4 separate regions of the Homo sapiens genome follow, and regions 2, 3 and 4 are each linked to region 1. The links come from fine-mapping of genetic effects on gene expression. A gene starts in region 1. Each other region holds a variant in brackets. All regions are shown on one strand. Distances are between the middles of the regions.

Evidence for each region. PIP is the estimated chance that this variant, and not a neighbour inherited with it, causes the effect.
Region 2: its variant is the best candidate, but not a certain one, in a credible set for the expression of SPTSSA in whole blood (TOPMed, PIP 0.63).
Region 3: its variant is the best candidate, but not a certain one, in a credible set for the expression of SPTSSA in lung (GTEx, PIP 0.73).
Region 4: its variant is the best candidate, but not a certain one, in a credible set for the expression of SPTSSA in whole blood (INTERVAL, PIP 0.56).

The regions. Positions count from the first base shown.
Region 1 is chr14:34,459,728-34,465,616 of GRCh38, forward strand. SPTSSA (serine palmitoyltransferase small subunit A) reads right to left here and starts at 2,513. Exons shown (of 2, transcript NM_138288.4): 1 at 2,369-2,513. The coding sequence starts at 2,480. RefSeq lists enhancers at 1,726-1,835, 2,376-3,326 and silencers at 2,236-2,405, 2,526-3,035.
Region 2 is chr14:34,364,203-34,370,091 of GRCh38, forward strand. No RefSeq gene overlaps it. Among named protein-coding and RNA genes, the nearest start is that of SPTSSA, 95 kb to the right of the region's middle. The variant A/G (reference allele first, on the strand shown) is at 2,230.
Region 3 is chr14:34,678,398-34,684,286 of GRCh38, forward strand. No RefSeq gene overlaps it. Among named protein-coding and RNA genes, the nearest start is that of CFL2, 33 kb to the right of the region's middle. The variant G/T (reference allele first, on the strand shown) is at 2,152.
Region 4 is chr14:34,328,185-34,334,073 of GRCh38, forward strand. No RefSeq gene overlaps it. Among named protein-coding and RNA genes, the nearest start is that of SPTSSA, 130 kb to the right of the region's middle. The variant C/T (reference allele first, on the strand shown) is at 2,597.

The DNA of each region.
Region 1 (5,889 bases):
CCAAGATGGCGACATTACACTCCAGCCGGGCAACAAGAACAAAACACTGTCTCACACACACACACACAAAGAAAAGAAATCAATCTGAAGTCTTCCTCTGTTCAGGACTTCTAACTCAGAGACAAATTTTCAGACAGGCAGAGGCAAATTTCTCTAAATTTTAGGTTTCTAGGATTGATGATTAAGTTGAATGTAATGTTTAAGCTGTAGAAAGTATGCCTCTTTCCAAAAGCCTGTAGCTGGCCACAGATTAGTTCTGGGTGAAGCTTACTAATCATTAATGGATTTATGAAATTCAAACTACTTCAGAGTAAGCCTCCTGACAAGTAGGGAAAAAAATCCAGTTTTCTCATTCAGTTCTTTCCACCAAGCTAAAATGAGGATTCAATCTCAAATTGATGTTCCAAACTATCAGATAGTTTTAAATGATTCTAGAAGTTGAAGTGGAAAAATATAAATACAACAGCTGATAGTAATTCAAGACTGGCTTATGTCAAACAATTGCATTTCTAACCTGAGTTAATTCAATAACGTGAAATTTGAAATAAGATTTTTTTATCTTAAGTTTAAAATCATAAGGTTCTATAATATTGGATGTCAGTTGGTTGCAGTTCTCACCTATTTGAAAAAAAAATTGAAACTACTTGTCGCTAAACCATGGTAACTCAAAAACATTAAAGGCAAATATCTACTAAGGCACTATATTTCATTTCATAATTTATTTCTCCATCCCCCAAAAAAGGCATCACCTAGTTATTTATAGGACACTATCACTATTGCAACATAACAGAAAAATCTTAACATCATTGATAACTGTAGCATTTTAGTGTGTAAAATCTATATTAGATTTTAGGTGTCAAATCTATACTAGATTCTAATAGTGCACTCTACATTCAACCTCTGATTTAAAGAGTTTCATTTTAACCCAGCATTGTTTAAATTAATTTTAGGATGTGTTATGTCAGTCAAGATATACTTGCTTCTACTGAGAGACTTCTATTAAATATGCATTCAAGTATATATTTTACAAGGCATGACCTTGCGAGCCCTAAAGAGTGAGACTAAACTGCAGCTACAAATAAATGGTGCAGGAAATCAAAGCAAACTATATTCAGAGTCTAAATCCAAAATATGCATTCTGGTTCTTAAATTCCAGGTTTGGAAAGAAATGCCAACAGTAATAAATAAATAAACTGCTTTGAAAGCATCTCAAATTCCTCAAAAGTGCTTAAACAAAAGACTCAGCTTTGAGTACAACCTTAAGCTATCTCAAAACAAATAAACACACTTGATAAGGCTTAGAATGAAATTACCTCAGTCACTCACTGGAATGCAACAATGCATTCGCAAAGTTATTCTGAAGTAAGCTACTCCAACTAAACCACACTGAAAAGGAGAGAACGTGGATAAACTAAACATGTTTTGTGAAATACCTGTTTTGTATTGGCCTGAGTTTTTTAAAAGTTACATCTCATTCATTATCAGTATTTAATCTGCAAGAATATCATCAAAGGATGTCAATATGGACAAGCAGAGACAAGAAACATCAGACTTTCAGGGAGCCTATCTTCACAACCCTGAGTTATTAACTGAAGTTCTCAAAGTTAGATGAGTTAAGATACAGACAACGTGCTTTGCACAAATGCTTTGCTTATAGTAACCACTCAATAGTCATTAACAAGAATTTATTAACTATCCACCAAAACACAGTTTCAAACCCTACCGACAACTAACCACAAATTGCACCACTTTTCGGGCCGACTTCTACGGACGGTGCACAGAAGCAATAAATACACTTTTAAAACTCCCCAACTTGAAGACCAAAAAGATACAATAACTTAAACTGCTTTCAAAAACTACTGGAGTGTCATGCCTACAAATTCAGAACCTGGCTTAAAAGCTAGTTAACTGACTAGAATTCTTGGTAGACCCAAAGCCAACTAAATCAGGAACACTTAAAGGTCAAAGGCGTCCAAGCCGGGAGCGATGTGCTCCACTGTTACATGATCCCCGCCTCCTACAGGAACAGGGGACTGAACCAAAGGCAGTTGCGGCCGAAGTGCAGGCGACACACAGGGTTACACATCACCTTCGGAGATTTCCTCCAGGAATCAAGACGCTTCCCCCTTGGGTCCAGCGACTCACAGGTGACCCCGGATCTCAAGAGTTCTCGTCTCCCCCACCCCCCACTTAACCCCGCGAGCGCCGCCCTCGGCCCCCAGACCTCCCCCTGCACCCCCGGCTTCCGCGCACAGGACCGGCGGGGCCGCCGCTCCAGCCTCCACCCCAGGCCCGGGGCCTGGGGAAATGCGGCCCCGCGGCCCGCGCCCCCAGCCCGGCCCCCGCGCGCGCGGCCGGGACAGGATACTGAACACCGTCCGCTCCCAGGGCTCCAGCATGTAGAGCGCCGTGACCAGCAGGTACTGGTAGTAGAACCAGGACATCTGCTTCCAGGCCCGCGCCAGCGCCATCCCCGCCATGCGCCTCCCGCGATGCAGCTCACACGTCAGTCTGTCCGGCCGGCCGCCCGCTCACGTCCTAAAGCCCCCGGCCGCCAGGCCCGCCCGCCCGCCACCCAGCGCCCATTGGCCCGCCCGGCCCCGCCGTCACCCGCGGCACGCCCAGACCCGCGCGCGCCCCGGCCGCCGGCCCCCAGCCCCGCCCGACCCGCGCTCATTGGCCAGGCCGCTACCTCGCGTCGCGTCGTCCCCTCCCGTTTCCCCGCCCGGGCATCGCCCACGCTAGCCGGAGAACGGTCCCCGCGAGAGCGCCCAGCCGCGCCCCACCCCGCCCGGGCCGGCCGGTGGTGGGCGGGGCGTCAGTGCCGGCCGGGGTCCCGGGGCCCCCGCAGCCCAGCGGGCGCTCGGTCCGTCCAGACTGGCCCAGAGCGCTTGCGGAAGAAATATTTCTGGAACACTTGTTATGCCTCAGGCATCCTTCTGAGAAGGAGGATTGCCAGGGAGAACCGGAATGCCTTCGGTTCCTTACCTTGTGCAGCTGGCGGCCTAGCTGGGAGACAAGCATTAATCAAGTCGTGATCCGTGTAAGAGGAGATAAGGGGCTGAGAGAGGGTGAGGAGGCGAACGCCACCTAATAAGGAGGTCTGGAAAGGCGTCCTTGTAGAAGGGATGCACATTCGGCCTCCTTCCTCCCTTCCCCCACCCATGCACACACACACACACACACACACACACACACACACACACACACACACCCCTAGACGGACATAACCCATGCACTCCCTAACCCAGAGACCACTTACCAAAAACATCTATCTGCCCACCTCTTAGTGGCTGTAGGTAACCACCAAGTGGGTCAAGGCCAGAAGCGCGCTGATCTAGTGGGTTCTGCAGAAGACAGGCAGCTTGAGATTGGTGTGAGGGCTGGTGATACTTCCCTAGAGATGCACTCCTGGATGCCCAGATTTTCCCACTGCCAGATGGGCCAGCAACATTGCACTGGCCACAAGGAGCTCCATGCACTGGTGTAGCATGTGAACTGCCACAATTAAATGGCCTGCTGTTTAAATGTTAAAAGTCTTCCAGGTTAAACATACTACTGCTTAAACTTTAAAAGTTTCATGGTTAATAACTATTCATTAAAAGTACCAAGTGCCGGCCAAGCGCCGTAGCTCATGCCTGTAATCCAAGCACTTTGGGAGGCTGAGGCTGGCGGATCACTTGAGTCCAGAAGGTCGAGACCAGCCTGAGCAACATGGTGAAACCCCGTCTCTACCAAAAAAAATAAGTAAATACATAACAAAAAGTTAGCCAGGGGTGGTGGCGTGCACCTGTAGTCCCAGCTACTCAGGAGGTTGAGGCGGGAGGATTGCTCGAGCACGGGAGGTCGAGGTTGCAGTGAGCCAGGATGGTGCCACTGCACTCCATCTTAGGTGGCAGAGCAAAAGAAAGGAAAGAAAGGAGACAGAGAAAGAGAGGAGAAAACAGAAGAGAAGAGAAGAAAAGAAAGAAAACAGTAAGTAATATCAAGTGCCAGACATTGGGATAGCAAGCCAGATAGACTGAGACCTGCCTTCATAAAGTACCCAGTCTGCTGGGGAAGAGAGGCAAGTTAATGGATTACAGTGAGGTGTGGTAAATGATATTTTTGTGGATCGTATCCTTTAGGATACCAAGATAGCCCAGACAAAATCAGATTGGGCTTGTGAAAGTCTTCTGAGAAATGGTGCTTGAACTGAGTGTTGAAGGACAAGCAGAAATGGAAGAATGAATGAGCTTGGGGAAGAGAGGGTGAGACAGACATTCTAAGGATGAAGTTGTGATGTTTTTAGAAGACTGGAAGAACTTCCATGTGGCTGGAGCAAAAAGAATGTATATGCAGTAGCAAGAGATGGGCCTAGACAGCAAACAGGGACCATATTCTGAAGGACCTTGTTTGAGAAGCTAAGAAATTTTTAACTTGATGTCCAAAAGTTACTGGAGCCAACAACTTAAATAAGATTTTCTTTCAGGGCTGGGTGTGGTGGCTCACACCTATAATCCCAGCACTTTGGGAGTCCAAGGCGGGTGGATCACATGAGGTCAGGAGTTCCAGACCAGCCTGGCCAACATGGTGAAACCCCGTCTCTACTAAAAATATAAAAAATTAGCCGGGCGTGATGGTGGGTGCCTGTAATCCCAACTATTTGGGAGGCTGAGGCAGGAGAATCGCTTGAACCCGGGAGGCGGAGGTCGTAGTGAGCTGAGATCACACCATTGCACTCCAGCCTGGGCAACAAGAGCAAGACTCCGTTTAAAAAAAAAAAATGCTTTCGGAACAAGACTTGGGTGTGGGTAGTAGCCTGGAGGCTACCGAGGGAAAAAACAGGTTGGGAAGACATTACAAAGGTAGAACCCACAAATACTTGAAACCTCCTTACCCCTCAGAGATGCAGGTACACGTGCCCTCCTACTTTCAAACTTAACTGTTTTGGACTTCTTTCTGTCCCTGTTCCTGTTCAGGCACAGGCAAGCTCATTCCTTTTTCCTCGAGAACTCCAACTACCCTCAGCATCTGGTGATGCTACATAAAATTCATCCAAGATTGGAAGCATCACCCGTAGCCACCCTTCCTTTACTGGGTCCACTCCCTAGCACCATGTCTGCCAGGTGGTTGTCCTCACTGTTAGTAGCTCCCAATCCACTGCGTGTCTCTCGGAGACCAGCTCTACCACCTCATCTCACTAAAGTTGGTGACTGACTAGAAATGAGGAAAAGAGGCTGAGATCCTGGATGATGACAATACAAAGAAACCGAAGGAAGACGTTTGGCTGAAAAGATATTGATTTTGTTAGGATGAAGCTATGTCTGAGGTACCTGAGGGACACTTAAATGGAGGTGTCCAGGGGACAATTGAGCACATGGTTTGGAACTCAGAAGTGAAGCCTGAATGGAACTAGAGGCATATGAATTTTCAATATGTCCCTGGTCATTGAAGCCAGAAGAGCAGATGAGGTCACCCAAGGAAAGCACATAGAATGGGAAGAGCAGGGTACAGAATAAACCCAGAGATTCTGGCATTTGGCCAATGAGAGTCCAAAGGAAGCCAATACAGGGAAGGAGCTACCTGAGATTTGACAGCAATGAGGAGAGACATACAGGAGAAGCTAATGGAGGAAGGGATAGCCAGCAGAACAAATGGCTCAGGGAGGATAAGCAAAATAAGGAAGGGAAGCGCCAATTTGTTTTGTCCACATGGGGCTAGATTGATGACTCAGCATTTCATTGTGGAATGATGATAGGACAGAAGCCGGATTATAGAAGGCTGAGGAGAGAACAGGAAGTAAAACAATGAGGACAGTTAATTCAGGCTTAGTTTTGCAGGAAGCTTGCCTGTGAAGGGAAGGAGATAGAATGGTGGCAAGGGTTTCAGTTTGGTTTCATTTTCAGA
Region 2 (5,889 bases), 96 kb before region 1:
CATCAGGGTTCTCCATAGGAACAGAACCAATAGGGTGGGGGAAGTAGGGAGACAGAGATTAATTTAAGAAATTGGCTCACACAATCATGAGAGCTGATAAGTCTGAAATCCACGAGTTAGGCTGGCGAGTCCAGCAATAAGTTGATGTATTAAGTCTGACGATCTGGAGGCAGAATTCCTTCCTCTTCAAGGGACCTGAGTCTTTTAATGACTTCCGCTGACTCAGTGAGACCCACCCATATTGTGGAGAGCAATCTGCTTTCCCCAAAGTCCGCTGATTTAAATGTTAGTCACCTATTCTTAAAATACCTGCACAGCAACATCTAGATTTGCAAATAGCTGAACACAATAATTCAGTCAACTTGATACATAAAATTAACCATCACGATCAGAGTGAAGGGAGGATGTCGACCAGAGAACCTCTAAGTGAGAGAAGGACATACTGCCCCCAGCTGTGCACCTCATCTCACTGGAAACCCTGAAAACCTTCAGAAAGGGAGTTAAAGAAAGGGAAAAAAGGCCGGGCACGGTGGCTCACGCCTGTAATCCCAGCACTTTGGGAGGCCAAGGTGGGTGGATCACTTGAGGTCAGGAGTTCGAGACCAGCGTGGCCAACATGGTGAAACCCCATTTCTACTAAAAATACAAAAAAAAAAAAGAAAATTAGCTGGGCGTGATGGCAGGTGCCTGTAATCCCAGCTACTCAGGAGGCTGAGGCAGGAGAATCACTGGAACCCGGGAGGCAGAGGTTGCAGTGAGCTGAGATTGTGCCATTGCACTCCCGCGTTGGGGGGCAGAGCAAGACTTTATCTCAAAAAAAAATAAAAGAGGGAAAAAAAGCCCACAGTGGGAGCTCAACAGCTGCAATCATCTAGAAGGCACACAGTCTACATTCTGAGCAGAACACCCTCACTTCTTGAACCGCTAGATAAATTCCTCATTCTCCACATTAGTTTAAGCCATTTAACTTAGTATCGAAGTTGCTCACAAGAGACAAAAAGAACTGCAAAGAAATCTGAAGCTTACGCATATTCATATATTACTTTACTCACATAATATTGTCAGTAGTATTAGTATTGTGACTTCAAAACTGTTTTATGAAAATGTAGAAGAAAGCAAATAAAATATATTGATGTTATTAGGAACAAAGATTTTCAACGTAAGAGAAATTAGATGATATATAACATAAAACAGAGTTAAGAAGGGAAAAAACAACTCTGTAAAGTTGAAATTGGAACTCTCAGTTCAAACACATGATTGTGTATTTCTGAGCTTTGTCCACTAGAAGGAACTAAGAGCAATGAGATCCCAGTAGTGCTAAGCACAAATAGTACCCACACCTCGGCTTTTAAATACAGTTCCCTATTCAAAAGGATGAGAAATCCTCAGAGAAATGGCTGGTTCCAGGGCTCGGGCAGAGAACACAAAAGATGAGCCAAGGACATCTTCTGCCAGAAAGTAAAAGAAGTACGTAAGGACCAAGGGGGTTATATCAAAAGAAAACAGGAGGAAAACTGTGTGGCGACCTCTACCAAAGTAAACATACCCTATGAGCAAGGAATTCCACTTCTACCCCTATTCTCCTTACCCAAAAAAATGTGTTGACCCCAAGTACCAGAATGTTCATAGGGGCACATAATAGTCAAAACCTGGAATCATCCTTAATGTCCACCTACACTAGAATGAATAAATAAATGGCAGGAGCAATGAAAAACAAAGAACTGCAGCTGCACACACAAGAGTGAATCTCATGAGCATACAGACGTGCAAAGGAACCAGACAGAAAAGCGTACATGTGGTATGATTCCATTGACACAAAATTCCAAAACAGCCAAACTGATCAATAGGTTTAGAAGTAAAGCTGGTGGTTACTGGTGTGGGGACAAAAGTGATAGGAAGAGGGTGTGATTGGGGCTTCAGGCTCCTGGTAATGTTTTGTTTCTTGATCTAGGAGCTAGCTATTCATGTGTTTGCTTTGTGAACATTCTTTGAACTATAGACTTGATTTTTTGTGCATTTATCTATATGTTATATTTCAATGTAAAAATCATTTACTTTTTAAAAAGCCAACTTGTAGGCTGGGCACAGTGGCTGATGCATGTAATCCCGGCACTTTGGGAGGCCAAGGTGGGCAGATCACCTGAGGTCAGGAGGTCGAGACCAGCCTGGCCAACATGGTGAAACACTGTCTCTACTAAAAATACAAAAATTAGCCAGGCACAGTGGCAG[A/G]CACCTGTAATCCCAGCTACTCAGGAGGCTGAGGCAGAAGAATTGCTTGGACCCAGGAGGCAGAGGTTGCAGTGAGCCAAGATCGCACCACAGCACTCCAGCCTGGGCAACAAAGTGAGACTCCATCTCAATAAATAAATAGCCGACTTGAAGGGTTTCCCACGGGCCGAATTGGATACAATTTAACGTCAAAAAGGATAATGATGGTAGCTCTTTATTAATGAAGATACGTGAATCCCAGGGCAGGGAGTGGGGAGGATAAACAGGACAGCTCTTCTTTACAAAAGTAAGACACTCATAAATGTAAAAGAAATGACAAAATTCGAAGATCACCATTTTGTAACCCCTGATATAATCATTGATTCATGTAACAATCACCAGTGGAAGCCAAAACCTTTGGATGAAAACTTGTTAGCATACGGGCTATCCCTAGAGTACCAAAGTACCATCCCAGGGACCACTTACTTTTACAAAGAAGAGAAACTGGGCCAGGCACAGTGGCTCATGCCTGTAATCCCAGCACTTTGGGAGGCCAAGGTGGGCGGATCACAAGGTTAGGAGTTCGAGACCAGCCTGGCCAACATGGTGAAACCCCGTCTCTACTAAAAATTCAAAAATTAGCTGGGCATGGTGGCACACGCCTGTAGTCCCAGCTACTTGGGAGACTGAGGCAGAAGAATTTCTTGAACCCGGGAGGCAGAGGTTGCAGTGAGCTGAGATCGCGCCACTGCACTCCAGCCTGGGTGATAGAGCAAGACTCCATCTCAAAAAATATATAAAATAAACAAAGAAGAGCAACTGTACCTTTGAAATGGAGAGGTATGGTGGTGACCACCTTAATCCAGTGATTGAATTTCACATCACAAAAAATGGAACACTGTGGCATTACATGCTTCCTGATATGATGCAAATTCAACAACCTAATCTAAGGCAGTAGCGCTTCTTAATTGCATTAGAATCACCCGAGGAGCTTTTCAAACTCCTAATGCCAACTACGGCAGAATCTACTTGGGCAGGGGCGGGGGCCGGAGTTGCCAAGCATCAGTATTTTTTAAAGCTTCCCACATGATTGTAATGTACAGTTAAGATATTCTGAACAAAAACGTATACTCGAATCTAACTTCTAGTTTAAAGAATATACAGGAGATAGAGCAGTGGTTCTTACTTCTGACCTCATATTAGAGCCACCCGGAGATTTTTGAAAGTAGGGCCACCTGGGCTGCATCCCAAGGGCTTCTGATTTAACTGGATTAGAGCAGCACTCAGACATTTGTATGAAATTTCTAGGTTTTTAGTTTTGTATTTAAAACCCCCAGTGAGAACAGAGTGGACCAATTTATTACTTCTTCTTTGTAAGGCCAATTAATCAAAACAAGGAATTCTAATGTACAGCCCGGGTTAAAACTTACTGGGAAAGAGGAACAGGTTAACATCAAGAGAAAACACAATCTAGAATGTGGGACATTCTATAAGGCTGCGAGCCTGGATTCTTCAAAAAGTCAATGTCATGGAGGGAAAAAAAGAGGGATAAAACATTCTATGTTAAAATGAAGTTTTAAAATGTAATGTATGCATTAATTTGAGAGAAACAGCTACAAAGACATTTTGGAGGAATTAATGCAGTTTGTTTGTTTGTTTGTTTTTCTGAGACAGGGTCTCGTTCTGTCATCTAAGCTGGGGTGCCGTGAGTGGTGTCATCATAGCTCACTGCAGCTTCAACCTCCTGGACTCAAGTGATCCTCCCACCTCAGCCTCCTGAGTAGCTAGGCCTATAGACATGCACCACCACTCTTGCCTTTTTTTTTTTTTTTTTTAAGAGACGTCATTTTACTATATTGCCCAGACTGGCCTTGAACACCTAGGCTCAAGCAATCTTCCTAAAGTGCTGAGATTACAGGCGTGAGTCACCATGCCCGGCCAGAAATGTAAATATTTAGTTGATTTTAGATAGTTAATTTTCTTAGCAGGGATAATGACATTTTGTTTCTGTGGATAAATATCTGTATTCTTAAGGGATGAAATGCTGAATATCGAAAAGTGTTGTGTCATCATGTGTACATAATTTGCTTTCAAATGGCACACAAAAAAGAAAACCAAAGTACAGAGAAAAATAAAGCAAGTATTGCAAAATATTAACAATTGTGAAATTTATGTGGAGGGCATATGGGATTACACCATAATAATCTTTCAACTTTTCTGTGTGTTTGAAATATTTCATAACCGTAAGTTGAAGAAATGAGAAAGATTTTAAATAGAGATAAAAACTCACTTACAAGGCCATGGAATTTCCATCTGTTTTACTTCTCTGCAGGCAAGTCTACTCACAACTCCACCACACTCAATCAACCTTACACCACACCCAGCAATTAAAGGCTGCCTTTCTCAATCTTTGCCCACTAGATTTCGTGCATTCAAACAAGTGTAGAAAATGCTGGGTTATATTGGATTTATCCACAATCAGGCATGGCAAACACCACCAGGAAGCACTTCTCTCTTGAGCTGACCTGCCTCGCCTATGACATCCAAGAAGACTGGCAGTTATGGTATCCATGACAACTTTCCTATCTCATTTGGGCTTGAGAATCAGGCTTCCTCTAGTCTCTGACAGAGGCACTTCAAAGTAACAAGCCTGCAAATATTCTCATGGCACAATACAAGCCATATATGAAATACAAAACTATCTACCTCCCTGCCCTGGCTAGTCCCTTGCTGTGGGACAAAAATGCTTAAGCCATGATGGTAGGGCTCTCCTGGTAAGTATTTAGCAAAGGAAAGGAAGCTTTACAACATGACAAATGGCAAAAGGTGATTTCACTCTTTTCCCCCAGAATCATCAGAGGCTCTGCCCCACCTGTTAAGACTACAAAGCGGATAAAATACTGCCAGTCTGCCAGGAGCTCATGGTCAACCACAGTGGACAAATACCATGCTTCTAATTAGGCAGACTATAATAAACTGCATGATAGGGGTGTTTCCAGAGTGGTGTGGGTCTACAGAAGAGGGAAGTATTAATTCCATCTGTGGGTGTTGGAGAAAGCTACACAACGGAGTTCCTTGGCTTTTGACGGGGGAAGTGTTGAGAAATGAAGGGAAGGGCATCCAGGCCAGGCAGAACCATGCCAGCAAATGCACCAGTATGTGAAAGCACCCAGTGTGTTCAGGAAGTGGCACCAATTTGGTGAGGGGGAGAACAAGATAGGACCAAGATGCCCTGACTTCTTTGCAGGGCAAATTTTACTTAAGTGATTTACTGATTTGCTCTCCTCCTCCTCCTCTCCTTCTCCTCCTTCTTCCTTTTTCTTTCTTCCTCTTCTTCTTTTTCTTCTTATCATTATTATTATTATTATTCTCTCTTTAAGCATTCAAAAAAGATCTTGCATAAGAACTCAAGGGAGGGAGCACATTCCTTAAGTGGCATTCTAAATAGGGCTTTCCTAAGGCTCAGAAATGGTAGGTGCCAGGGTAATTGCTTGATAAGCAAACTGTACGTGTCAGGGCAGGAGATTCCAGGTCACCACAGTGCTTGCACTGAGGACAGTGCTCCCTAAAACTAGGCATCTGAGTTCTACAAGTAGGACAATGCAGCTACTACTTATTAAGAGCAGATATATTTATTCAGTTAATTTTTAAATTACATTATCCTTGTCAGCACTAGTGATG
Region 3 (5,889 bases), 220 kb after region 1:
CACAGTCCAGTAGACAACTCTACAGTAAGGTTTGTACTGGTAAACTGGAGTGCTGTGGGGTTAATTTCTCAGAGATGAAGAACGGGTTAATAATCTCACCCTGATTATTCAGTATCTACTGAAAAGTGTTTACCACAGAGACGCAAGACAATAGAGACTGCATGCCACGTCCCCCTCTGCTATGACATACTCACACTGCTTTCAAACCATATTAATACCATGGATTGTGAATGCTCTACTCATTCTAGTTATTCGGGCAAAAATTCTCTTGTTAGTTGGCAAGAGCACCTCAAACCTCTTTTCAACCATCAGCAGTTAGTACTTTACTTTCCCTTGCTCACACCACCTGAATAATCAGGAATGCCTCTGTATTCATCAGTGCCTCCTTCACGGGGCAAATTGTGTATACTATACATATACACACACATATATACACACATATGCCCATATATGTATATATACATATATAGAGCTATATACTTATATGTGCATGTGTGCATGCGCGTGGGTGTGCACGTGTGTGTGCATGTGTGTGCATGTGTGTGTGTGCACATATGTGTGCGTGTGTGTGTGTGTATAGTGGCATGCACCATATAACAACATTTCAGTGAACCACAAACCACATATACAACAGTGGTCCCATAAGATTATAACACCATAGGCCGGGCGTGGTGTCTCACACCTGTAACCCCAGTACTTTGGGAGGCTGAGGTGGGCGGATCACCTGAGGTCAGAAATTCGAGACCAGCCTGGCCAACATGGTGAAACCCCGTCTCTATTAAAAATACAAAAATTAGCTTGGTGTGGTGTCACACGACTATAATCCTAGCTACTCGGGAGGCTGAGGCAGGAGAATTGCTTGAACCTGGGAGGTGGAGGTTGCAGTGAGTCAAATGCACACCGCTGCACTCTAGCCTGGGCAACAGAATGAGACTCCGTCTCAAAAATAAACAAATAAATAAATAAATAAAAAGATTATAACACCATATTTTTACTGCACTTTTTCTGTTTTTAGATGTGTTTAGATACACAAGTACCATTGTGTTACCACTGCCTACAGTATTCAGTACAGTAACATGGTGTACAGGTATGTAGCCTAGGAGCAATAAGCTGCACCATATAGCCTAGGTGTGTAGTAGCCATATCATCTAGGTTCGTGGTAAGTACATTTGATGATGCTCACACAATGATGAAATTGCCTAACGATGCTTTTCTCAGAATGTATTCTTCATGGTTAAGTAATACATGGCTGTGGGGATATTTGTATGTGTGTGTATATATATATATATATATATATATATATATATATATATATATAGACACACACACACACACACACACACACACATATATATTCATGTGTCTTAAGAAACTGAGAGTTGGCCGGGCGTGGTGGCTCACTCCTGTAATGCCAGCATTTTGGGAGGCCGAGGCGGGCGGATCACAAGGTCAGGAGATCGAGACCATCCTGGCTAATACGGTGAAATCCTGTTTCTAAAAATACAAAAAATTAGCTGGGCGTGGTGGTGCGCGCTTGTAGTCCCAGCTACTTGGGAGGCTGAGGCAGGAGAATGGCGTGAACCTGCGAGGTGGGGCTTGCAGTGATCTGAGATTGCGCCACTGCACTTCAGCCTGGGCGATAGAGCAAGACTCTGTCTCAAAAAAAAAAAAAAAAGAAAAGAAACTGAGAGTTACATAAATTTTCTCTTTTTTGAGACAGAGTCTTGCTCTGTTGCCCAGGCTGGAGTGCAGTGGCAGGATCTGAGCTCACTGCAACCTCCGCCTCCGGGTTCAAGTGATTCTCCTGCGTCAGCCTCCCAAGTAGCTGGTAGTACAGACACCTGCCACCACGCCCGGCTAATTTTTGTGTTTTTAGTAGAGACAGGGTTTCACCATGTTGGCCAGGCTGGTCTCGAACTCCTAACCTCAGATGATCCACCCGCCTTGGCCCCCCAAAGTGTTGGGATTACAGGCGTGAGCCACCGTGCCCAGCCAGATTTTCCTTTTGCCTGCCTTTCTGTTTTTTTCTCTGATCTTTTAAAAATCAAATTATTCACTGACAACCTTATTCTTTTTAAACATTTAAATCTAATTATATGTTTAAGATCTACTTAACAAGGTGAGTGGATCTGCTATAATTATTGTAACTAC[G/T]TTATGTTCACCTATTTGATATTTTTACTTCATTTTCTTGGCTCTTAAGACTTTTTTTTAAAACTGTGCTTTTTAAGGAGTTTCTTAATTTATTGATTTAGTTTGCCTCTTTTTTTTTCCGAACAATCCAGAAATTTATTATTTTATATAACAAGAAGTAGTACAGCAGTGGGGCAGTTTTGCAGTTGGTTAACTCAGTGGTTCAATGTTGTCAAGGACACAGATTCTTTCCATTTGCTCCCTGGTCATCCCAACCAAATTGGCTTTTGTCCTCCAGTTTGTCCCTTCATGTGCTCCTCGGCAACTTCTCTTCCTGATGATTATGCTTGGGTTTTCTCCCTCTCCACAGTTCCCAGTGCCTACTCCTGTTTGCTTACCTAGAGGAGTCTTGCCTCAGGAGATCTGAGGTCTGGGGCTTTGAGCTTCTGGCCTGGCCTCCACCCTGCCTCTCTGGAAGGTTATCTGATCTGACTCCAGCTGGCATAGCTCTGCGCCCCAATGCCCCTCTCCTGGGCTGGACTTGGAATTAATTCACATTCTTTTTTTTTTTTTTTTTTTGAGTCAGAGTTTCGCTCTTGTTGCCCAGGCTGGAGTGCAATGGCACAGTCTTGGCTCACTGGCTCATTGAAACCTCCGTCTCCTGGGTTCAAGCAGTTCTCCAAGGGAGCCTCCCAAGTAGCTGAGATTACAGGCATATGCCACAGGGTTTCATGTCGGCCAGGCTGGTCTTGAACTCCTGACCTCACGTGATCCACCTGCCTCAGCCTCCCAAAGTGTTGGGATTACAGGCGTGAGCCACAGCACCTGACCTCATTCACATCTTGAATTAAAAACCATAAGCAGTTCAGGGATGAAATTCATTGTCTATTTCTCATTATCTGTGCACCCCATTCCTTCCTCGCTTCTGAGGACACCCCACTCCCCTGGTTTCTCTGGGTCTTCAGCATACCCTGCTGCCTCTCTTCTGGCCTGGAAGTCTCCCAACATTCAGACGGGTTCTTCTCGCAAAATATTCTCTCCTCTGGGAAAAGTTACCCATTTGCGGCTTCTCCTCTCACTCTTTGTAGATCCTTCTTTACCTTACCTAGGGAGAGATTCAGGTCTCATCTCCAACCACAGCTTGTAACCTGAATATTCGGTCACTACTGTGAGTTGAATGTGCCCTTAGCTGAATGCCCCCACCTTTACTGCCCAGATCTGTCATTGTGCACATGCTGTTAACATGACAATTCTATTCAAATATTGTTTAAAGCTAAGAACTGAGAAATGGTGGGATTATATTCAATACAAGTCACTTTTTTTTCTTTAAGTACATGGATCAAAAGTGAAGACGTAAAATTACTGGGGCTTGCATTTAGTTATGAGACCCATTGAGGTGGATAAAATTAATGGGAAAACAACAGCTCTAGCTCCAAAAAGGAAAGGGCTGAATTTCAGAAATCGACTGGGTAAGACATGACAATTAAGTGAAATGTGTGATTTTTTTTCCCTTCTTTCTTCTGGATCCTGTATTTTAAAAACCTACAAAGGGTATTATTGGAATAACTGGGAAATTCTGAATAGGGACTGTATTTTCAATGCTACTATTGTATTAATGTAAAATTTCCCGAGTGAGATACTTATTTTTTTTATTTTTATTTATTTATTTATTTGAGATGGAGTTTCACTCTTGTTGCCCAGGCCGGAGTGCAATGGCATGATCTCGGCTCACCACAACCTCCGCCTCCTGGGTTCAAGTGATTCTCCTGCCTCTGCCTCCCGAGTAGCTGGGATTACAGGCATGCACCACCACATCCGGCTGCTTTTTTTGTATTTTTAGTAGAGATGGGGTTTCTCCATGTTGGTCAGGCTGGCCTCAAACTCCTGACCTCAGGTGATCCACCCGCCTCGGCCTCCCAAAGTGCTGGGATTACAGGCGTGAGCCACCGCGCCCGGCCGAGATACTTATTTTATAGTTACATAGGATGAATATTTTTATTCTTAGGAGATACACACCGAAGTATTTTTGGATGAAGTGTCACAGTGTCTATAGTTAACTCTTAAATGGTTCAGCAAATGATTTTTAAAAAATAGAATGCAAATGCAGTAAAATTTAATTGATAAATCTGCGTGAACATCTGGTGACATATGGTGTTCATTGTACTACTTGCAACTTTTCTATCTTTGAAATTTTTCAAAATAAAAAGATGTGAAAAAGCCGTGACAGGTGGACAGTCACCACTCTGACATAAGGACCGTGTGTGTGTATGTAGGAGGTATCATAGTTTAAGTTTATATTTAGAAACTTTAGCAGTATAATCATTCAAGAAAGAAGATCACATCATTTTCTATTTAAAACCTCCATTAACAGTCTAGTGGGTGAAAGGGCTGGTGAGTGATGTTGCTTCCTGAAGGCAGAGGCTGACTCTATCCCCTCTCTGAAGCCTCCACCACTTCCACAGAACCCTGTTTGCAGGGTACAGGCCCCACAGAGGAAGTTGGCCGTGACTCTCACTGCCGTAACTGCTCAGGTACAGACACAGTTCAGTTGCTTCTGTCTCTTGAGTTGGGTCATCCTAGGAGGTGGGGAGTAACATGTCAGTCCTGCCAGTTGTCAGGCTCTAGTCTAGACTTTCACATATGTTATCACATTCCAACTGCACAGCCTCCTGGTGAGGGAGGAATTATCATCCCCATCTACAAATGAGAAAACAAAGTCCAGGAGTGGTTTTCAGCCAAAGCCACAAAGCTGGTAAGTGGTGGAGCTTGGATTCCAGTGGAGTCTTTCCACCAGAGAAAACCTAATAAATACAGCAACAAAGCTGGTCTGTCTCACTCCACACATCCTAACTGGAACACAACATGTCAATCCCAGATAATTTACAAAGTTATCAACTGGGTTTCAGAACAAATTTGCCCATTTGCTATGGAGAAGCTGATGTCCTCTAAGCCTGTGTTCATCAACTAGAGGGATGTCCAGATCCCACTGCTGCCCACTGTATTTTTGACACAAGTCAAATCAGTTTGGCTGTATTGTTTGCTGCTCACTATCACCGTATTAAAGATTTGTGAGGGGCACTGCTACTGCTGCTGCACTTCAGGGTATGAATCCATTCAATGTTTGCTTTCTCACCTCTATCTAGGCTGGCAATGTTAGGTGTTTGTTGTGGTTGTTGTTTGGGTTTATTTTTAGAAAGTGATACAGGAATTAATTTCCTAAATTTCAATTACCTTGCTTCCTACAGTTGGTCCTCCAGGTCCAGTAATTTCAACAATCTGGGTATTTTTTCTTTTTTCTTTTTTGAGACGGAGTCTCGCTCTGTTGCCCAGGCTGGAGTGCAGTGGCACTATCTCAGCTCACTGCAAGCTCTGCCTCCTGGGTTCACACCATTCTCCTGCCTCAGCCTCCCGAGTAGCTAGGACTACAGGCGCCCACCACCATGCCCGGCTAATTTTTGTATTTTTAGTAGAGACAGGGTTTCACCATATTGGTCAGGCTGGTCTCGAGCTCCTGACCTCAGGTGATCTGCCAGCCTCAGCCTCCCGAAGTGCTGGGATTATAGGCGTGAGCCACCATGCCCGGCTGGTATTTTTTTTTTTTTGAAAATATAATTGAAACTAGATATGAACTTTATTTTCATTTTTTTTCTTTTCCAAGGAAAGGCTATTTTAAAAATTTAAAGTAATACATTTATTTATTTGTTTCGTTTATTTATGTATTTAATTTATTATTATTTTTTTTTTTGAGATGGAATCTCA
Region 4 (5,889 bases), 130 kb before region 1:
ACCACTAACAGTTCCTTAGCATTAATTCTCCCTACCTTCCTTTTCGTTAATAGAATTCATCAAGTTTTACCCAGAGCTTACATGTTGCAGCCTCCCTTGCAACTGAGTACAATCATATGACAAGTTTTGGCAGTGAGAAGTGAAGAGAACATAAACAACTTCTGGTCATGTTCTCATTAAGACGCTGCCAGTCCTCGACTTCCCCTGGACCCCTTCCCATAGCTGGAAATCCAGTGAAGTGGGGATGAAACTGCTTCAACCATGTGAATGAAGGCAGTACTCAGGACCTTACTATTCAAAATGTGGCCTGCGAACCAGCAGAAGGAGCAGCAGCTGGGACTTTGTGGAAATAGGGGTTCTCAGGCCTCACCCTAGACCTACTGATGCCAAACTCTGCATTTAAATAAGATCTCCAAGTAATTCATATTCACACTAAAATTTGAGAAGCACTGATCCAGGAGAAGGTAGAACAACAAGCTAGAAGGAGCTTGGGTATCTAGACGACCCACCCTACTACACCACCTACCAGCTCAGACTTTTATAAGATAAGTAGACCTTCTATATTTGTTTAAGCACCTTTATTTTTACGTCTGTTTGATCCAAAATGCCAACTATATTAATATGTACAAACAAAACATGATATAAATTCCCACCTTTACAGCTTTTTCAATATAGTGTATTTGTTTTGTACCTTGCCTTTCTTCAATACCACAACCATTATTAAATCACATATATTATAGTGGTTTTATTGAGTAGTTAAGCTGATTATGTGCCAGTCCACAGCCATAAAATTAAAACAAATTTATAAATGAAATAAAAAAGAAAACTATAAAACCAATAAAAATCCAAATGAACAATTGTTTTAATATAACGAGGTAGATGATGTTTTTCTGCTGGAACGAAATCACTCTTCTCTTCACAACACAGCTACGGAACTGATGTTTCCACACAAATGTTTTTGAGTTTGGCATATTTATACTACCACGTGTTTTGTGATGGCTCAATTCTCTTACCAATTGACTCTATTTGAAGTACTGTCAAATCACCATTAGCATCAAATGTCATGATAGCTTTTGACTTCGCTTGGTCTAAATGCATCACTTACATCCTAAGTTACTTCTGTTCTTTTCTCATGCACACAGGATAATCCAAGAAGCACAACTTAACACCAGCTGTGTTATAAATACAACTGCAAACACAATTTATAACATAAGATGGTCATCCAGAAACCTAGAAAAATAAAACTTACATGCACACTAAGAAACTATAAATAAATGTTCATGGCAGCTTTATTTGTAATAGCCAAGAACTGGAAAGAACCCAAACATCCTTCAACAAGTGAATAGTGAAATACACTGCAGTACATTATACAGTAGAATATTACTCAGCAACAGAAAGAAACATACTGATACGTATGACTTGGATGGATCTCAAGTGCATTATGCTAAGTGAAAAAAGCTCATCTTAAATGTTTACATACTCTATGGACCATTTATATAACATTCTTGAAATGACAAAATTATAGTGATGAAGAACAGAGCAATAGTTGTCACAGGTCAGGTTAGGGAGAAAGTGTAAGTATAACGTGGTAACACCACAGAATTTCTTTGGGTGATGGAATTGTCTGCACCCTGGATGTGGCTGTGTTTACATAAATCTACACGTGATAAAATTTCACAGAGCTATGCACACACACATACACAAACACAAAAAGTGCATATAGGCTAAGTGTGGTGGCTCATGTCTGTAATCCCAGCACTTTGGGAGGATGAGGCAGGTGGATCACCTAAGGTCAGGAGTTCAAGACCAGCCTGGCCAACATGGTGAAACCCCCATCTCTATTAAAAAAAAAATTAGCCAAACTTGTTGGCATGCACCTGTAGTCCCAGCTACTTCAGAGGCTGAGGCAGGAGAACCACTTGAACCCGGGAGGCAGAAGTTGCAGTGAGCCAAGAACACACCACCACACTCCAGCCCGGGCGACAGAGCGAGACTCAGTCTCAAAAAAAAAGTGCATATAAAAACTGGTGAAATCTGAATAAAATCTGAACTTTAGTTAATACCAATGTCAATTTCCTGGTTTGCTAATGTGCTGGGGTTAAGATGCTATCTTAAACTAAGGGTATATGGGAACTCACTATACTATTTTCACCACTTCTCATGGGTAATTCTCAAGTATTTATACTCTAAAAGTACTTATACTTCTTAAGAGTATTTATACTCTCAAAGTATCTCAAATTTTTTTTAATCTTAACCTAATAACAAAGTGGACCAAATGGAACATCTTTTGAGACTTTGTACCTCATCATGATTCAGGCAAGGCACAACCAGTGTCAAAATACTCAGAGAAAGAGGCATTTACAAAAGGAAAGAAAAGTTCACCTTCAAAGAGAGCAAGAGAATCAGACTTCTGAAGGACTGGTCGGTTAAATAAAAAATATAACAAGGACTTAAAGGGAAAATGTGCAGTATTACCAAAGTTACAAAATATCCATTCACGTGTTTCTGGTGAGAAAGCAGCAACTTACTCACTTGACTGCTGTATTCACAAAGCTCTCGCCATAGCTCTAAACATCCACATAGCAAATATGGGGTC[C/T]GGGAGCTTGTTTTGGAAGGTGCCCAAGTTTACAATAAACATTCACGTTTTATTATTTGGGGACCAGGCCTGTCAGGGTGACTCTGATACTTCTGATTTATCTCAGGGTGCAAAGTTTTTATGTTTTTATTTTTTACTGTTAAAGGTGAAGTGTTTAGACATACTGGAAACAGAGCAGATTTGGCTTTTATGCAGAACATGTGTGATCTGCCAAAAGCACCTTCACTTTAACCCCTGTCATGACTGGGTCTGAGACTGATTTTCCCCACCACCCACTGTGACCCCACTGGGTCAAGGCTTGTGTCTGCGTGTCTGCTGTTTCTCATAGAGTATCACAGTGGAGAAATCATGAAGAATGCAGTCAACAAATTAAGAGGACTTGGAGACCATTCAAGAGTCTGGAACAAACTAATGAATGAATTATAAGAACTTAGGAAATAACAAAACAGTCAACATTCATTGGCTTATGAGATAGACACTACACAGAGTGCTTTCTATATATCATCTCATTTCATCCTCACCACAGAAGGCAGGCATTAGTCTCGTTCTCAGTGATGGGCCTGAGACTCCCCTGACTCCAGAGCTCATATTCGTAACCAGTACACTATGCCCACTTTTAGAAAAGGAAGCACTAAGGTTCACTAAGGACAAGCCATGCCTAATCTTATCACCTCTATAAATGGGACTTCCAAACTAACAGATCTGAGAAATAGGACAGACCTGATTTCAGCAAGGGATTGACAAGATTTTTATTATTAAGGAGAATGACAAGTTTGAAATGAGATCTTAAAGCCAGGACACAAGGAACAGAAACAATCACATGTGGGGATGCTTTCGTGAGAATTAAAGCTGCAGATGAAGAGGCTGGAGTGCATGGATTTTTCCATAGTCTCTAGGTATGTTGTGTGTTTTTCTCGATACGTGAATCTAACCAGTGAAATTCTTCTCACGCCGAGCCCCCAGTTTGTTCCACCTGGAAATTATTAATACCTTGTCTTCCTGCCTTTGACCTGGAACGGCAGTGTGAGAATATTCTCCCAGGGGGCAGCAGAGAGCAGCAGGACGCTCCAGCATTGGAAGCCATACCCTGGAACCAGCTCAGACCTGTCCTCAGGGGCACCCAGGCTGGGCCCAAAATCTCAGAGTGTGCAAACACAAGCCTTCATAAACTGCCCCTACTAAACCTCACCTGCCCCAACCAGCACTACAGATACAAATCACACTGCCAAGGCAAATGGCAGAAGGAAGGGTGAGGCAGGGATAAGAAACTATATACACACCGATGGGGAGGGGGAAGCCTCACCTGCTTTAACCCAACTTGTTTTTCAGGTCCAGAAAAGCTGCACCCTTTGCAGCTTTGCTTCATGTCCATGTATTAAATGCATATTCACGCAGAAAAATGTATCATGAGAGTGTTAAATAAGAAAGGCCCCTGACCTGAGGCTGTCTCTGTACTCTCAGTTCCTAGGTAATGAACCGCAACCTAACTTAGCACATAAACTGAAAACCTAACTTGGGAGAATAACAAACAGCTGAGTCTCAGCCCCTCTGCAGCCCAGCTTCAGCCAATCACAGGCTGCCAACTGATCAGACCCGAGGCCAAATAAGGCAAGAGCTGAGCTGCAACCAACCAGGCTATTTCTGTACTTTAACTTGTTTTCTATATCACTGCTTCTTTGCAGAGTTCTCTGAATCTTTTGTAATTCTGAGTGCTGCCCGATTCATGAATCATTCCTTGCTCAAATAAACTGCTAAATTTAAATTGTCTAGAGGTTGTTTTGTTTTTTTAACAAGAGGCTTGTTTAAAAAGGCTCCTACTGAGGCAGGAGAATAGGATCTGGAGGCAGGAAACCTTCACGCAGACTTCCTAGAACTAAATTGAAAGGAAAACCCTAACTTTCCACACCTAAGCAACAAAACGACCAGAGGCTACTCTCTTTGACCTTTTCTGAACGACAAATGGGAAATTGGGTGTCAACAACAAATCAGACTGATTGCAGGTGGAGTCTTCTTTTGCAACTTGGTAACTTCACTCCAGCCTCTGAATAGTTGCGGTCCACAACCAGTCAGACCGATTGCAGGCCAAGTCTTCGTTTGCACATAGAAGTATAACTTTGTAACTTCACCCTAGCCTCCGATTGGTTGCAAAATGCCTCTGATAGGTTTGCACAGGAGTGACCTTTGTAACTTCAGCCTCTGGTTGGCTGCTTTCTGCAACGAGACTGATTGTAGGCTACCAATTCATTTACATGAGATGAGCATGAAGTGGCCAATGGGAAACTTCTAGTGGGTATTTGGACCCAAGAAGATTCTGTATCCGGGCTCTTGAGCCGCAGCTCGGGTTCGCTCCCACCCTACGGAGTGTACTTTCGTTTTCAATAAATCCCTGCTTTCATTCTTTTGTTGCTTCTTTGCTTTGGTGGGCGTTTTGTCCAATTCTTTGTTCAAAATGCCAAGAACTTGGACACCTTGCAGTCACAACCCCACTACCAGTGACACTACTGCCTCTCAGACAAGAACACCCAGAGGCTGGGCACGGTGGCTCACGCCTGTAATCCCAGCACTTTGGGAGGCCAAGGAGGGCGGATCACAAGGTCAAGAGATCGAGACCATCCTGGCTAACACGGTGAAACCCCGTCTCTACTAAAAATACAAAAAATTAGCCGGGCACGGTGGCAGGTGCCTGTAGTCCTAGCTACTCGGGAGGCTGAGGCAGGAGAATGGCGTGAACCCGGGAGGCGGAGCTTGCAATGAGCCGAGATTGCGCCACTGCACTCCAGCCTGGGCGACAGAGCGAGACTCCGTCTCAAAAAAAAAAAAAAGAACACCCAGAGAAGAGCAAGGAGGGTGTGTGGCCCAAAGGTGAGGTTTCCTTTCTATCCCCTCAAACTTTTACTTTAAGGGCCACTCAGGTTTTTACAAGAACAGATTTGTGGGTACCACCCACACCCCAAAGCATCACACCTTGAGAATCCTGAGACCCATTTACTGTTGACACCTGAGTAGTGGAGGTGTGTGAGTTGAAGGGATCCAAACTTTCCAGGTAATTATTACATTGGCGAACCATACAAGGCCCAGAACACAGGCTCTAACCTATGAGGGACACAGGTTTGAATTCAATAGATGATCCCACTTTTGCAAGAAAACTTCCTGTGACTAGGAAATAAGATGTCCCTTTAAACTCTACCCTAGAGGGCCAGACTTCAGTTTCCATAAACCACAAACAGTTCATCTTTGAAACAGGTACCTGGGAGGCCAAGGCAGGCAGATCACTTGAGGTCAGGAGTTTGAGA